Homo sapiens: one gene and its partner. The protein of the gene in region 2 interacts with the protein of the main gene of each other region in a biochemical or structural test. Each region holds a gene or a part of one and is shown on either strand. Other genes may lie near its edges.

What was found.
Region 1: the proteins of FNDC3B (region 2) and ERCC6 form a complex in vitro, tested with the Homo sapiens proteins (one large-scale study listed by BioGRID).

Annotation. Positions count from the first base shown.
Region 1 is NC_000010.11:49,456,525-49,459,430, forward strand, and holds part of ERCC6 (DNA excision repair protein ERCC-6), read right to left. Parts: intron 2,711-2,906; coding exon 2,291-2,710; 3' UTR 1-2,290. UniProt on the Homo sapiens protein: Involved in repair of DNA damage following UV irradiation, acting either in the absence of ERCC6 or synergistically with ERCC6. Involved in the regulation of gene expression.
Region 2 is NC_000003.12:172,346,942-172,350,771, reverse strand, and holds part of FNDC3B (fibronectin type III domain-containing protein 3B), read right to left. Parts: intron 3,561-3,830; coding exon 3,411-3,560; intron 1-3,410. UniProt on the Homo sapiens protein: May be a positive regulator of adipogenesis.

The DNA of each region.
Region 1 (2,906 bases), on a different chromosome or scaffold from region 2:
ATGCATGGAGAATACACACCAAACCTAGGGCTGTACTTAGCTGTGGAACAGGTGCAAGATGGTGTGGGGGTGGGGAGGCAGACTATTGCTTGAACATTTTTAATGGTGATAGTATTAACATTTAATTTTTTGACAAAATTTTAAAATCCTTTATTTGTGCTGATAAAGCATGTTAAATACATTAAATCTATTTACACTGTACAAAGCTTTTAAAGTTCTAAAAATCAGATTTTTATCTAAATGAATAAATTTCTCTGTATTGTTAAAACCATTCTACTTAACTGCATTGTTCTCCAAGTCCCTCCAGCCAGGAGGCACGGTAACAATGTGTCAGATCTCCACACTGAGACACCACCTTCCCAAGATCATGGTACATCAGCAGCAGAACTGAGACAAAAACTGGAACAAGGACCACCTTGCTCCTACTGCATTATAGCTTTTGATAGTATTTGCTACTTGAAGAGGAGGCTATACCTTGTCTAGCTCAATACAGTTTATGTTTCAGACACTATAAGTATGATACCCAAATGCTTCATGAGTGAACAAGGTCAGCAGATCACCCTGAGAACAAGGAAGACACAATTTCCTTATAGGCTAATGATTATAAAAATAGAAATTAAGAGCTCCCCAGAAACAAACCACTTAGTCAAAAAGGAAGGAGTTTTGACTTTCTTCTAAGCCAAGTACTCAAGTTTAAGACTTATTGGCCTATTTAAAAATTCTTTCTATGACTTCTAAACAATGATGGCAAAGTGACAAAAATAATGTAATCATCTTCTTCCCTCATTATATATAAACCAAACTAAAAACAAAAGAAATGAACAAGCTATAATCCAAAAAAAACTAGAAAATCCTGACAGGAATCATATAGAACATCTCTAAGAAAAGGATTCTTGGCTTAAGCAAAATATTAGAGCAGAGAAAGCAAAACTCATGTCCTCTCATGCAGTCCGGCAAGGCCCCCCTGCCCAGAACCCTCCTCTCTGAGTCACATGGATGAGCAGACAGAAGATCTGGACACAGCTATCCATGTTAAGCATGAGAGAGATGTAAAGAAATAGCAGGGTAGGAGGGCAGGCATACTACAGAAAAATGAGAGAGAGGAAAAGAGCATGCCAGAGAATACAAATCCAAGAAACAAACTGCACTAAGACAGCTAAGAAGAAATTTCAGGAATACGATGAATTTCGGAAAACAACACTTCAAAGATGAGATGATAAAATCATCCTGAGAAGGAAACAAGAAAAACATGGGTAAGAAAATAAACTGAGGATCAAAGCAACACCATCACAGAACCACAAACACATAAACAGTAGTGAGATACAAACAGCCTTGGCTGGAATCCAAACCGCAGAAACAAGAAAGCCCGTCGCAAGGAATGCAAAGGCAGGCGCAAGACGAAGGCAACTGGAGAGAAGACAGCCTGCCAGCCTGCAGACAAGAGAGGCCTGGAGTGGTGTCACTTCATGGTAACAACGGCTGGGTCTGCTGTGGGCTGCAGTGATGTTTGTGTGCATGCATGTGTGTGGTTTTTATGTACCTACTTTTGGCTTTAATTTGATTTTTTTTAATGATAACACATTTTGTGACTGTAGGAGAGAAAAAGATGCCCTCTGCTTAAAGGAAAGCCAGGGTAAACTGAATACCCTACAGCTTTCCACAAATACATGTCTTATCATTTATTACCATACTATTTCATGCTTTACTAATAAAAATACTCACCAATTTACCAGTACCTTGAAAAGAGGATCTTTCCAAGAAAATTAATATAATTATCAAACAACAAATAACAAACCTGACCTTTGTGGGTGGCAAATGGTAAATATAAATGTTTAAAGTTTAAGCATCAAAATAATGCTGTTATCAGATATTGATGAACTTATTGAACAGGTCTGACTGAATGTAAGACCTGTTTTTAGCACCAATAAAAAAAAATATTGAGATTTCTGTTCTGCAAACTTCTAACTGTGCTCCCTGACAGCATCTTTTGGGTAAAGGAACAAATGTGCTCCAAGGAGTAACTGTTAGGTACCTGATTTACAATATAATTAGATTGCCAAAAAAAAAAAAATCAATCCAAGTATTTTCTCCTTTAGCTAGCATTATTAAAACTTTTAACTTTCAGAGAAGAGTTTCTTCTTCCTTAAAGTTTTAATTCTGAGGTAGACATCATGCAAACAAACATCAAGTGCAGCCAACTTCCATTGACAAACATGATTATTAATAATAAATTAATAATCAGAAATGCCCGTTAGAAAAAGGGACTTGAAAGTTTAGGAAGCAATGTTGTTTAGCAGTATTCTGGCTTGAGTTTCCAAATTCCTTCACCACCAGAAGTTCTATGGAAAGTGCACAGATTTCTCAATAGTTCTCGGAAGACACAAGACTGTGATGCAGATAACTTGGATTCAAACTCCTGCAGTATCTCCCTGGTGCTGGCCTGGCCATCAGTGTGGGCCTGGAAAGCGATGAAGTTTCTCATCTCCACCAGAAGGTCATCGTGTTCTGTGGTGGGCAGCAGGGCAGAAGCTTCCTGCAGGTGCCCGCTTTCACTTTCTAAACGCTCTGGCAGAATCAGGTGGTTTCTAGCTCTCATTTTAGCCAAGAGTGAGGAGGAAGCGAGGGGCCCGGATGAAGAGTCTGCATCTTCTGCTCTTCCACTAAAATGCTCAGGGACATTATCTTTTCCCTCCTTTTTCATGATGCCATCCTATAAAAAGAAGACCACTATACTGATATATTTAATTTCTAGTTTATGCCCCCACTTCCTTCCCCAAAGGCTGTGAAGGGTCACAAGACAACACATGTGCCAGGGTGGTGAGGTTGACAGGGTGAGACTGAGACTCCACCTAATGAAAAGGGAAAGGAGGAGGGTCTGGTATCTAAATCCTCCCACTGTTAAGAGA
Region 2 (3,830 bases):
AAGTGATCCTCCCACCTTAGCCTCCTGAGTAGCTGGAACCACAGGCACATACCACCACACCCAGCTAAGTTTGAGCTCTTAAATCAAGGTCTAAAACAAAACTTATAACTCCTTTGTTAATTTCAAAGAAGCAGGCTTAAAGCATTTATTTGCTATTAAATCACAGTTGAAACTCTACTGCAACATTTTGTCATACCCACTTCTGTTTCATTACAATACCTCAATACCTCAACTCTCTTTCTGGAAAAATTTTAACATGACAAATTATTTTATAAGTATGTATTTCGAGATTTTGGTACTGATATAAATGTATCACAGGGGCAGAAAAATAGGATATCATGGAGCCCAATGTTTCTATCAACTAGGGCTTTGTATCACCATATCACAGAAGGACAAGAACATGGCTTTTAAGAGTTGAAGCTTAGTTCAAACCTTGATTCCATCATTTAACAACTGTGTGATCTTAGGTTAGTTAATTTCTCTGAGCTTGTTTCCTCAGCTGTAAAATGGGGACAGTAATGCCTAATTCATAGAATTACAGTAAAGATTAAATCGGTTAATATGTAAAATGCTGGCAGAGTATCAGGCCAACAGTAGGAGCTACACTTTCTTCCTTCCCACTGGGAAAATTATGAACAAAATAGTATTTTCTCTATTTTTTCAAACACCTTTTTATTGTGTACTACTTTTATACTTACAGAAAAGTTGCAAAAATAGTACAGAGAAATTTCTGTCTATCTCCTACTCTGCTTTTCCGAAGAGAAACATGTTACAGAACTATAGAATAATGATCAAAACCAGGAAATTATCACTGGTGGCCGGGCACGGTGGCTCACACCTGGAATCCCAGCACTTTGCGAGGCTGAGGCGGGTGGATCATCTGAGGTCGGGAGTTCGAGACCAGCCTGGCCAACCTGGTGAAACCCCATCTCTACTAAAAATACAAAAATTAGTCAGGCGTGGTGGCAGGCGCCTGTAATCCCGGCTACTCGGGAGGCTGAGACAGGAGAATCGCTTGAACCTGTGAAGCGGAGGTTGCAGTGAGCCAAGATCGCGCCACTGCACTCCAGCCTGGGTGACAGAGCGTGACTCCATCTCAAAAAAAAGAAAAAAAAGAAAAGAAAAACATTATCACTGATACTATACTATTAACATACAGACCTAATCAGAATCTTACCAATTCTTCCAATGTTCTTTTTCTACTGCAGGATCCTACTTTCTTTTTAACTAGCTTGGCTCTATGGAAAACATTTCTTGATTTACACCACTTTTTATTAACAGTTTTCAAATGAAATTTAATTCAAAATCAACTTTTTGTAAATAATAGTATGCCTATAATATACAACATGCCCTATGAATGGAATTACGTTGGTACTTAATTAAAACAGTCCTGAAAATACAAAAATTCAAAAATTCCTGAGCAAAACAAGAAATGTTCCACCACATTTCTATAAAACACAGTACAGGTATTATAATAAATTTTTATTTTTTTGAGACAGGCTCTCACTCTGTCGCCCACGCTGGCCTACAGTGGTGCAGTCACAGGTCACTACAGCCTTGACCTGGCTCAAGTGATCCTCCTGCCTCAGGCTCCTGAGCAGCTGGGACTACAGATGCCTGGCTAATTTTTGTATTTTTTTTTTTTGTAGAGGAGGGGTTTTGTTATGTTGTCCAGGCTAGTCTCTATCTCCTGGCTCAAGAGATCAGCCGGCCTCAGCCTCCTACAGTGCTGGGATTACAAGTGTGAGCCCCCATGCCCGGCCAATATTTAAATTCTTAAGTGCCATATATTCAAAAAATATTGGGGTTTAACTTGACTTTGTAATCATGTTGAATGAAAATAATTCATATTTGGTCCACAAATAACAATAAATTGGTATAGTTTGAACAGACCCCCTTCCTGGCAATAGTCCTTTAGTGTGGCAATGGTAATCTTAAAAGTAGTACTCCCTTCATAAGATCTGACTCATTTTATTATAAATAAGCACAGACCTTTGAAAATATATTTCTACTCCTGTTAATACAACGAGGCAAGATTATGCAGGTACTATTCTTATTAATGTATCTTTTATAATGCAGCTTTGGGAAGTCAATGCTAAGACAACATAGACTCTGAAAGAGAAGGAGATATAATAACATTTTAAAGAAACACCAAAACTCAAAAACCATAATGGAGTGAAGCTCTTTACTGGGGTGGCAGACAGCTCTTTATTTATATCCTGCCTTGGTAGAAAAACAAGAGTGTGGCACATAATTTAACCTTTCCCCAGTGACTCAGCATCACTATTATAAATATCAGACAATTTGCTGTGACACTGACTCATTGTCAAAAGGTTAATTATGTCCCAGGTGCTTCATTCGAGAAGCAAGAAAGGTGTATAACAAAAGAGTTTAATCAGAAATGTTTCAAATACAGCAGACTTCTGAATTTAACAGAAATGCTTCAGTTGATCTGAAAAATTAAGTTATGAAGCGAATATTTTCTCCAAAGAGACCAGAGACATTGGGTGTACTTATAATAACGAATTTGATCCATGACTTAAATCAGGTGGGAACTTGACTTTGGCATCTTTGCTTCTTTATCTATTCAAATCTAAATGTGTATGAAGACAGAGCTCTTCAAGGTCAACAACCACATCTGATTAATCTTTGTATCTCTCTTCCTGATCTTCCTTTGATCCTGGTACAAAGTACTATAATGCTCAAGAAATGTTACTGAACAAATGGAAAGAGGAGGACAAAGAACTCTATTTTCTCAAGAGACTAAGGCTTTACACAGAAAAAATAATAATATAGCCAAGAGAGTAAAATAAAAGTAAACCCATGGTTATTGTCACTCTGAGGGGTTAGGCTATGAACCAATTTTTCTTGATGTTATTCTATCTGGACTCCCAAGTGGAAGCTTATAGATAACCAGCCTTGATAACCGTCACTGGGAGGTGGGAGGTGGGGTCCTGTAATCTAATGCAGACTAGTCCAGATTATTTTTGGCTCCATTTAACAGCTCGTAAAATAATTTTCTGTCTTTTACCAGTTCTAAGAGTCTTTCCCACTGAAATGTACATCTCAGGGGAATGAGACAGAAGGCTCCTTCCCTAAGGAGCTGTGTCATCTTTCCCTTGGACTTGGGTCATTTATTCAGCAAACTGATGAACAGACAAGATACAAGGGTGGTGAGAAGCAGAATGGAGAAGAATCTTATTTTGTTCTTAAGTTTCAGAATTTCCTAGAGAAGTGGAAATTAACTGCAAAACACCAAAACAACCAAATATATTTTTATTTAAATGGACTCTTTTTTTCCATATCATCCCTCCTGACAGCCTCCACCACAAGCCTTTGAGTGGGTTTCCCAAAGTGCCTTTCATGGGACAGCAGTCCTTGTGAGTAACATCTGAATAATGTCAACCTACCTGTAGTCTACAGCAATACTGTGCAGCAGGCAACAGGTCTCTTATTTCAAAACGGGTGTCTGTCCCATGATAAATGAGTTCTAAGGATTCTTCATCTTCTCCCCATTCCAACCTGTACTCTGAGATGTCAGCACCAGAACTATCAGGACTCTGGAAAGGCAGAAATGGAAGTAGTTAATAATGCCACTGAGAAGAGAATCCTACTGTGCTTGTATTCAATTAACTAAAATGGGAAAGAGAGCAACATGCCCCAGAATATTTCAAATACATATAAAAGAAAGGCACGATCACAAATATATATACCTACTATGTACCCACAAAATTTTTTTTGAGATTTAGAAATTTAAAAATAAAATAGGGCCAGGTGCGGCGGCTCATGCCTGTAATCCCAGCACTTTGGGAGGCTGAGGTGGGTGGATT